2 separate regions of the Homo sapiens genome follow, and region 1 is linked to region 2. Evidence: fine-mapped expression QTL. A gene starts in region 2. The other region holds a variant in brackets. All regions are shown on one strand. Distances are from middle to middle. Region 1 has its middle 12 kb from the start of GJD3. Region 2 holds the start of RARA (retinoic acid receptor alpha).

Region 1 (5,370 bases), 68 kb before region 2:
GTGCAAACTCAAATTATGTGCTTTATAATTGTCTCTGTTAGACAAAAGAGTCTATGAAAAGACTAAATATGAGAACATAAAAACCCATCTTTGATAAATTACAAAGTGAAAAGGTGGAGCGCTCTGGCAGACACCACATTAACTAAGTGATCAAACTTGGCACACCAGTAATGAGACCAAATGCCATAATGTGCTCCTGATGTGATGCAATGGGAAGCGTACATCATCACTCATGGAGTATCCTTGCCAAAAAGACTTAACTTGAACCTAATCATGAGCGAACAATTAGACAAAGTGAGTTATAAAACAAATTCCCACTGAAAGGGGTGAACTTGGGGACTGCTGCTGATAAAACAGACAGGCTCAACTACAAGAAAAGAAGCAACCTGGGCCTGGTGCGGTGGCTCACGCCTCTAATCCCAGTGCTTTAGGAGGCTGAGGTGGGCGGATCACGAGGTCAGGAGTCCAAGACCAGCCTGGCCAATATGGTGAAACCCCATCTCTAATAAAAAAAAAAATTAGCCACCCGTGGTGGCGCGCGCCTATAATCCCAGTTACTCAGGAGGCTGAGGCAGGAGAATCGCTTGAACCCAAGAGGCGGAGGTTGCAGTGAACCAAGATCACACCATTGCACTCCAGCCTGGGCAACAGAGCAAGACTCTGTCAAAAAAAAAAAAAAAGCAGCAACCTGGTCCCAAATCTCAGCCTTGAATCACTAACCCTAAATCTCAGTCTTCATTTATTTTTAATGTAGAAATCCTCTGTCCACCTGACATGGTCAAACTGTTCGGAGTGGGACAGATGACTTTACATCCCTGAGGGTAAAGAAATAATATGGAAATGATAAGGTAATCAAACCCATAGTATTTATAATTTAGTGTTAAAAGTCATCAGGATAATGTGTCTGTATTGCATATTTTAAATGTCTCTAATGTTTAAGAGAACGTAACATTCTTTCAACCTGTCACATTAGAGAATCTTTCAGATTTGCCTTGTAATTTCAATTTTTTTTAAGAGACAAGAGTCTTGCTCTGTCACCCGGGCTGGAATGCAATGGCACGGCTATGGCTCACTGCAGCCTCTACTACCTGGGCTCAAATGATCCTCTCATCTAGGCCTCCTGTGTAGCTGGGACTACAGACACTTGCCACCACGCCTACACCCAGCTGTTTCTTTTGGTTTTGGTTTTTACTCTCCCTCAAATCTTGGAACCCAGCTGTTTTTTTCAATTTAAATGCACAATTTTCTAGGTATGATTTAACATTGAAAGGCTTAAGGAACTTGATTAAATTTGTAAACATTATAACATTTTTGTAAAACTTAAAAGAACCTGAATTAGGGCGGGGTGCGGTGGCTCACGCCTGTAATTCCAGCAGTTTGGGACGCCGAGGTGGGAGGATCATTTGAGGTCAGGAGTTCGAGACCAGCCTCACCAATACGGTGAAATCCTGTCTCTACTGAAACTACAAAAATTAGCCGGACATCCGGACATGGTGGCGCAAGCCTGTAGTCCCAGCTACTGGGGTGGATGAAGCAGGATAATCGCTTGAACGTGGGTGGTGGAGGTTGCAGTGAGCTGAGATCGTGCCACTGCACTCCAGCCTGGGAGACAGAGCAAGGCTACTCCAACCCCAAAAAAAAAAAAAAAAAAAAAAAAAAAAAAAAAAAAAAAAGCACATGAATTACCACATTGGTAAATTTGGTTTATTTGCTTTACAAGTTGTTTTAATGCATAGGAAGATATTGTTTTTTTAGAGTTGCACGTCTGCCCCCTCAGGCATTAGAAGTGTTTAGAAATGTAATCAATTAGATGTTTTATGCTTAGGCAAATTTGACTTCTCAAAAGTGAGGTAATTAAAAATTAGATAATACGTGAAAGTGATTATTCTTATTATTATTTTGTTGAGAGACAGTCTTGCTGTTGCCCACGTTGGAGTGCAATGGCACAATCTCAGTTCACTGCAACCTCCACCGCCCAGGTTCAAACAATTCTTCCGCCTCAGCCTCCGGAGTGGGATTACAGGCGCAGGCCGCCATTCCCCGCTAATTTTTTGTATTTTAGTAAAGATTGGGTTTCACCGTATTACCCAGATTGATCTCGAACTCTTCAGCTCAGACAATCCGCTGGCCTCGACCTCCCAAAGTGCTGGTGGGTGCGGAATTGGTGGGTTCTTGGTCTCACTGACTTAAAGAATGAAGCTGTGCACCCTCGCGGTGAGTGTCACAGTTCTTAAAAACAGTGTGTGCGGAGTTCGTTCCTTCTGCTGCCTTCTGCTGTTTGGATGTGTTTGGAGTTTCTTCCTTCTGGTGGGTTTGTGGTTTCGCTGGCTGAGGACTGAAGCTGCGGACCTTCGCGGTGAGTGTTACAGCTCTTAA[G/A]GGGGCGCGTGTGGAGTTATTCATTCCTCCTGGTGAGTTCATGGCCTCACTGGCTTCAAGAGTGAAGACGCAGACCTTCCAGATGAGTGTTACAGCTCATAAAGGCAATGTGGACCCAAAGAGAGACAGCAGTAAGATCTGTACAACCTGAAAACCGTACAACAACAAATCTTCCACAATGTGGAAGGTGATCTCAGCGGGTTGCCACTGTTGGCTCCAGCAGCCTGCTTTTATTCTCTTATCTGGCCCCACCCATATCCTGCTGATTGGTCCATTTTACAGAGAGCCGATTGGTCCATTTTACAGAGAGCCGATTGGTCCATTTTACAGAGAGCTGATTGGTCCGTTTTTGACAGGGTGCTGATTGGTGCGTTTACAATCCCTGAGCTAGACAAAAAAGTTCTCCATGTCCCCACTAGATTAGCTAGATACAGAGTGTCCACACAAAGGTTCTCCAAGTCCCCACCAGAGTAGCTAGATACAAAGTGTCAATTGGTGCATTCACAAACCCTGAGCTAGACACAGGGTGCTGACTGGTGTGTTTACAAACCTTGAGCTAGATACAGAGTGATGATTGGTGTATTTACAATCCCTTAGCTAGACATAAAGGTTCTCCAAGTCTCCACCAGAGTAGCTAGATACAGAGTGTCGATTGGTGCATTCACAAACCCTGAGCCAGATACAGAGTGCCAATTGGTGTATTTACAATCCCCTAGCCTAGACATAAAGGTTCTCCAAGTCCCCACCAGACTCAGGAGCCTAGCTGGCTTCACCCAGTGGATCCCGCACCAGGGCTGCAGGTGGAGCTGCCTGCCAGTCCCGTGCCGTGTGCCTGCACTCCTCAGCCCTTGGGTGGTCGATGGGACTGGGTGCGTGGAGCAGGAGGCAGTGCTCGTCGAGGAGGCTTGGGCCGCACAGGAGCCCACAGGAGGGGAGGCTCAGGCATGGCAGGCTGCAGGTCCCGAGCCCTGCCCCGTGGGGAGGCAGCTAAGGCCCAGCAAGAAATGGAGCACAGTGCCAGTGGGCCGGCACTGCTGGGGAACCCAGCACACCCTCTGCAGCCGCTGGCCCGGATGCTAAGCCCCTCATTGCCCGGGGCCAGCAGGGCCGGCAGGCCGCTCTGAGTGCGAGTGCAAGGCCTGCCAAGTCCACGCCCACCCGGAACTCCAGCTGGCCCACAAGGGCCGAGCGTGCAGCCCCGGTTCCTGCTTGCGCCTCTCCCTCCACACCTCCCTGCAAGCTGAGGGAGCCGGCTCCGACCTTGGCCAGCCCAGAAAGGGGCTCCCACAGTGCAGCGGTGGGCTGAAGGGCTCCTCAAGTGCCACCGAAGTGGGAGCCCAGGCAGAGGAGGCACCCAGAGCGAGCAAGGGCTGCCAGCACACTGTCACCTCTCACTGGGATTACAGGTGTAAGCCACCGTGCCCGGCCCCAAATTATTAAATGTATAACTAGAATAACAAACTGTGTAAATTGGACCTGAAGGCTTAAAAGGAAAAAATTGGATTTTTTAAAATTTAAAGTTTTGATCAACTGTAAATAAATTCAAACCCAAGGATACTGATTTTGAGCTCAAAATCCCTTTCAAACATTAGAAACTCACGGGGCGCTGTGGCTCACGCCTGGAATCCCAGTTCTTAGAGAGGCAGAGGCGGGCAGATATCTTGAGCCCAGGAGTTCAGACCTGCCTGGGCAATATAGCTAGAACCTATTCTCCACAAAAAGGGGGGGAAAATGTGTAACTCAAACATTAGAAATTCAAACTGATAGTGAGGTAGGAGGCGGGACTCGACTCTGCGGGCAGGCCTGGGACACCGGACAAAATTGAGGACTAGCTAAAACAGGGATGAGTGGAAGCAGCTTTCCGTCAGTGCCCACCAGTGGGCCCTGTCAGTTTCCCATTGCCATGGCAACACCCAGGGGAGTTACCGCCCCTTTCCATGGCAACAACCTAACCACCGGGAAGTTACCATCCTTTTCCTAAAAATTTCTGCATAAACCTCCCCTTAATTTGCATATAACTAAAAGTGGGTATGCATGTGACTGCAGACCTGCCTCTGAGCTGCTTCTCTGGGCACATTGCCTATGGGGTAGCCCCGCTCCGCATGGAGCAGCACCTCTGCTGCTGCTGTGCATCAATGCGTCAATAAAAATTGCTAACACCACCAGCTCACCCTTAAATTCTTTCCTGGGCAAAGCCAAAAACTCTCTTGGGCTAAGCCTCACTTTTGGGGCTTGCCTGTCCTGCATCATCAGGAGCAAGCCAGATTACCCTATTTCATAAAGAATAGGGAAAAGACAGTCAACAAAAGAGGAGAGGGTGACCAGTGTGGAGTGTAGGAGGACAAAAAGGAGGAGGAGGGGGAGAAGAAGGAAAGAAGTCCACCGGAGAGGTGAGAGAGAGATGTGTAATGATGACTTAGAGAAAGTCTTACTCTCTGTTTTCATTGTCACCTCAATGATTTTCAGCACAGATATGCATTGCTTTTTTCTTTTTAATCAACCGTGAGTTGTAATTTACATACATAAAATGCACCCATTCTTTTTTTTTTTTCAGACGGAGTCTCACTCTGTCACCCAGGCTGGAGTGAAGTGATGCAATCTCAGCTCACTGCAATCTCTGCCTCCTGGGTTGAAGCAATTCTCCTGCTTCAGCCTCCCGAGTAGCTCGGACCACAGGCACCCGCCACCACACCTGGCTAATTTTTGTATTTTAATGGAGATGGGGTTTCACCATGTTGGCCAGGCTGGTCTTGAACTCCTTACCTCAGGTGATTCGCCCAATTCAGCCTCCCAAAGTGCTGGGGTTACAGGCATGAGCCACCGCGCCCGGCCATAAAATGCATTCATTCCAAGTGTAAAGATTGATGACTTTTTGATAAAGGTGAACTCCTCCCTTCCAAGTGCTAACCAGACCCAACCCTGCTTAGCTTCCAAGTTCAGGGTGGTATGGCTGTAAATGGTAAATGTATCCACTTGAACAACCGCAATCACAAT
Region 2 (5,370 bases):
AGGAAACCAGCTAAGCGACTCTCTGGAGCCCTGCAGGGGAGCCCTGCACCACAGGCAGGGAAACCCAGGAGTCCTGGCGCCCAGCCCAGAGACAGTGAAATATCTTGGAGGGGAGGAAACAGCCCAGATTGAGGCAGACATGTGGCACCCCCAGAAGCTCCCAGATGTGACCTACTGGCCAAAGGGGCTAGATGAGGCAAAGTGAAACATTTCTGAACAAGAAGAGAGAAGAAAGTGGGGCTATGGGAATGGGGTGGCGGGGGTCAGCCTGGCTCATCGCTGTCCTTTCCTCCTTGTCAGAGTCAGTGACACTGACATTAAGGTCATCGAATATCAACCAGGTCCTGAGGACCTTGGTGTGTTTCCTCCTCTCCTAGTCTCCAGACCCCAGCCTGTTCATTCCTGAGCTTCCTCTGGCACCCCTTCCTTGGGGCCAAGCCAAGTAAGAAATCAGCAGGCCCAAGGTGGTGCTTGGGAGGCCGGGGCAGTGCCAGGGGCAGTCCTCATACCATCCTCCCACTGGCTTCCCTCCTGCCTGCTCTTAGCCGCCACACATATCTCAGCTGTCGAATCCGATTAGGGCTCCTGCCCAGTGAGCCAGACAAGGAGGCCACTGGGCAGGGGAGAGAGAGACAAGGACGCCAAGCAGGGATGGCAGAAGGAAGGTGGAGACATGGCTCAGGGGAGCAAGTATGGGGCCCCAGAGGAAGAAATGCCTGGTGGAGAGATCTGTACTCTGTGACCACAGGTGCTCTGGTAACAGCTACAACCTGCATTAGGGGAATTCTGCAGTAACCGGGGCAATAGCCCTGCCTAGTTCCTCCATCCCCCAGATGGGCAAAGGATGGGGGAAGAAAACTAAAGGCGGAGAGATTGACCTAGATTTAGGAAGAGGATTCCATCCTAGATTCCCCCAGCCATTACTACCGTTTGCAGTGAGCTTTACGATACATTGTCTCTGTGGTTTTAGTGGCAATGTCCCTGCTTGCTACTGATAGCCATTTTTACAAATGGAGAAACTAAGGCTTAGCAAAGGGGAAGACCTATATAAACACATATAGTTAAGTAACCAGTCTAAGTCTCCAGTTCAGGCCTCTGATTCCTAGTTCACTGCTCACAGTCAGAATCTCTACTTTCCTTGTTGGATCAAGACCAGAACGAAGTCTGAAGCCAATTCATTATCCACCCTGTCCTCTAAAACCAACCTTTAGGGGACCCGGGGAGCCATGGAAGAATGCAGAGCACACCCCACACCTAGACAGAGCTACCAGATGGGGACATGCCACCCATTCCTATCATACATTGATTGCTAGAGGAGTTCCCTCAGTGTGACCAGTCTCTTCTATCACCCCCCTCCCCAGTCTACTACCCCCAGAAGCAAGACACACACTCACACATGGTAAGTCAGACAAGGTGTACACCCTTCCTGTAAACCCACCAAACCAGAATGACACGCCCTAGATCTTCAGAGAGCAGGGCCTGTCTGCCCACCACAGGAGAGAAAAATAAGCCACTGTAAACAGTAGGTGCCATCTAGCCCTCTCCCAGAGAGCCTGTAGCGGGGCAGAAGCTTGGGGACCTTGTAGCTCTAGAGAAACACCAGGAGCCTGAGATTCTGAAAGCCAAGAAGCTCAGGGAGCTGGCAAGGCTGGGTGACCTCCTCAATCTGGTCCACACCCCCTTCCCTAGCCATCTGGACTGAGCCTGTTCTGGCCTGGGCCACACTCTGGTATCCCTCCCCTTCAATGCATGCAGCCACCTCTATCCAAAGCTTCTAGATCTTACAACCACATTGTCCCTACACACACACACACACAGGTGGGGTCGGGGGGCTTCTGCAGCAGGTGTTGAAATGTTGACATGGATGGGGGCTCTAAGCTGAAAGAACTTTCCTAGAGGAAAAGCTCACCAAAATGCTCACAACCTCCACTACCCTCTAGCAAAGCCTTTAGCCACCCAAGTGTGAGATGAACCTGGAAGGGGACATTAGTTCCCCTACAAGGTGTGTAGGGAGTAGGGGCAAAGTCCTGAGCTCTTTGGGTGAGGAAGCAAGAAAGAAATCCCTTGGGAAAGCTCAGGTCCCTCTCTGGCTCTCTCCTCTCTCTGTTACCTCAGCACTTGCCAATTCTCCAGTCTAGGTGAGGTGGGGGAAGGGGTATTAGGCAATACCGCAAAGGAGGGTGCAAGGGCGTGGGGCCTGGGCAGACCTTCCCCCTACTCCCCACTCTTATCTAGAGAACGGGAACTGCCTCAGGAGAAATGCAGGAAGGGTGCTGGAGGGTGCAGAGGGCTCTGAGCTTTCAGACACCCCACTGTTCCCAGGCTCCCACCTCCCAGGACTACAGTGAGCGACGGGAGAGGAGGGATGGGGAAAGCCAGAACTGGCGAGAAGGAAATGGCTAGATCAGAAGCAGAGGCCGGGGTCAAAGGCGGCCAAAGAATTGGGAAGGGGTGTGCATGGTCCTACCTGCTCAGGTGTGTGCTGGCAGGGGGCCGATGGGGTTCCCAGGAGAACCGGGGAAGCCCTCTCAGCTCGATTCAGGATTCCCCCCTGCTTCTGGGTTAGGCTGCTGCAAGAGGCACGGGTTCCCGTTGGGTCCTAAAGCCCACTCGCCAACTAGAAGGCTCTCCCCGCCCTCTTCCACCAGCCAGCCCCGACTGGGTCAGCGGGCGCAGAGCGAAGGACTGATGGGGGAGAAGTAACCCACTGGAAGAAAGATGGGCGTCTGGTCATCGGCTGGGGACAGGAACAGTTCCCTGTCTCAAATACACAGCATATGGATAACTCGAGGATAGGATGACCTGAAACAGGAGAAAATAGACATTTCTTCCTGCCTGCCCTGAGCAGATGGATTTAGGTTTTGGTGCTGGAGGTGGGGTTAAGATCTCTTTCCCTGCCACTCCTGCTAAGGCATTCAGCTAGAGATTTTGGAAAGGGAGCATTCATTTTGGTTGGGCGCTCACTTCTGTCCTCTTCCTCATGGACTGCAGGAGTCCCTTCATCCCTCCCAATTATTCCCAAGGACCTAGGAGGCCATAGAGGGTGAAAAAAGATTTTCAGCATGTAAAAAGTGCAGGCTCACTTAGATGGCAGCTGGAAACAGGGGAAACATGTAGGACCAATGTATGTGTATCTGGGAATGTGTGGGGTCTGCAAATACACATATATAGGCAAGAGTATAAACAGGTGGGGTTAGGGAAGGAGAAAAAAACAAAAAAGAACTTTGGGTTACACCTATTACTGGAAATGGTAATTGTCAGTGGAAGAACAGGACGTAGAACCTAGAGGTCAACTAGTGCCCCTACCCAGCCCTCAGTAATGTCCCGAATCTTTATGACCAGAATAAACAAGTTAAAGAGAGAATATTTTCCTAGATACCATTTAGGATAAATATAGGGGCAGAGGGACCTCAATACAACAGATCAACTTCAAGGTCACTGATTCAGTTTAGTATAGCCAGTCTTCTCAGTAGCTCAAAAGGGAGAATTCAGGTTTGGTGGGCTAGATGGGCAAGAGAAAGCTGGATAAGAATTCTGAAGTTGTGGATTGAGAACATTTTGCAAGGAGAGTTGCACATATCTCTAGCAGCAGAGCAGGGAAAACGTCATGAGGGGAAGGGCCAGAGGAAGTCAGCGACAGACTTGAGGGGAGAGGGCATGGCCTCTCCCTAGAAGGGGAGAAGACACCAGCAATGCCTCCACCTCTGTCTTGCAGGAAGAACTGAGTAAAGGAGCTGGACTAAGGATGGAAGGCCCCAGGGTGGAGTCCATGGGGTGAGTTTAGGTCAAACCTTTCACCCTAATGTGCCTCAGTTCTCTCCCAGCTGTTAAACAGGGCTCTTCGTTCTTCCCAGGCAGTTAATGAGTGTTTACAAAAGGGTTTGGAGATCCTCAGATCTCAGCTGGGCCACCACTACAGTTATAAAGTTCAATAAGAGCTGAGTGTTATTTGGGGAGGAGAGGAGTAGGGGAAGGAAACAGATACTCTCTTATAAACTAAGGATAAAACTAAGCTCAGAGAGAAGCACAAGCCTAGCTGCCACAGGATATCCTTGTGCCCATGGATGGAGGTCACCCCACCCCCCCATCAACCACCACCAAAGGCTGGCCTCCAGCTAGCTGTAGGCAGAACCCAGACTAGCAGCTGGTCTTCATTAACTCCAGCTTTTTCACCCCCCACTGTGAACCCACAGCTTCTACAGGCCTAGGCTAGAGGGGGCTGCCCTAGCCCGACCTTGCAGCTGACACTGGGGTGGGGGGCACCGCACCAAAGGCCAAGTTACCAGCTGAAAAGAAAGTTGAAGCAAGAGTCCTTTTTCCCATTGGGAGCAAGAAGAAAGCAGTGTGGGGGTGAGAGGGTGGAGGTGGGGGAATTTAGGGCAAACAGCAGGCAGTGAAGTCAGCTGGATTGAGGCCCAGAAACCCCCACACCCTGGGGCCAAGTCTTACTCTAGCTTTGCTTTCAGCTTAAGTCTTGGCGAGGCCCCAAACTAGGGAAGGCCCTGGTTGCCCCTTTCCGCCTCCCTACCCCCACCCTTATTAAATACACATTTTATCTCTCAGCATCTTCATTATCTTAACTGAAGGAGACAAGCAGTGGATGGCGGCAGCAGAGAGCGTCAGGAGCGGGGGGCGGTGCGGGGAGCAGGCGCACCCTTGTTATAAAGTGCTGATCTAGCTCTTTCAGGCAGTGTGGGAAACAGAGGAGGGATCAAAGGGAGTGAGGCTGATTCAGAACTCAATTAGAGCTTTTTAAAAAACGAAGCTGGCTCTCTCCTTTCACCAGTCTTCAGCCTTTACCCAAGCCCCTTGCACCCAATTAACTTCCACTACCAGTGCCTTGGGGCTGGGGTTGAAAATCAAGGGGAGGCCAGAGGGCACACCTTCTCCCCTTACGGAACACACCTCTTCTAAGAGGAAGACCTGCACTGTTTGTAGCTTAAGAGAAGGTATCTTAGAAAGTACCTTATCTTTTCAGGAAGAACCTGAGATCACAACTTGCCCCAAGTTAAAAAGAGGGACATCAAAGGTGGGCTCCTCCCTAAACCCTTGCCTACAGACCCAGCTTCTGGCCAATCTAGCCACACTGAGTGACATCCAGACAGGCAGCCCTCTTCACAGCCTGTAGATAAGACTCTTCCCCTCATAGCCAAAGCGTCCCACCAGCAACATGGAAGTTGCCTCAAGCAAAATGCCACTACATCAGAGGGAGTGATTGGAATGCATCTGTGAGGCTAATAAATGCTCCAAAACTGTGCCAAGACACATTTTGTAAGACAGAGCACCCTTCTTATGCAGGGGCCTGCTCCACCTCTGTGCAAAAGTACCACCAACGTTTACCTTCAGCTTAGAACTGTTCTCACCACTGAG

The links. PIP is the estimated chance that this variant, and not a neighbour inherited with it, causes the effect.
Region 1: its variant is the best candidate, but not a certain one, in a credible set for the expression of RARA in whole blood (INTERVAL, PIP 0.80).

Annotation. Positions count from the first base shown.
Region 1 is chr17:40,374,053-40,379,422 of GRCh38, reverse strand. It overlaps the pseudogene RNA5SP441. Among named protein-coding and RNA genes, the nearest start is that of GJD3, 12 kb to the right of the region's middle. The variant G/A (reference allele first, on the strand shown) is at 2,377.
Region 2 is chr17:40,306,384-40,311,753 of GRCh38, reverse strand. It overlaps RARA (retinoic acid receptor alpha), which reads right to left and starts at 2,574. Exons shown (of 9, transcript NM_000964.4): 1 at 2,468-2,574. RefSeq lists enhancers at 1,378-2,261, 2,573-2,702, 2,713-2,882, 2,262-3,147.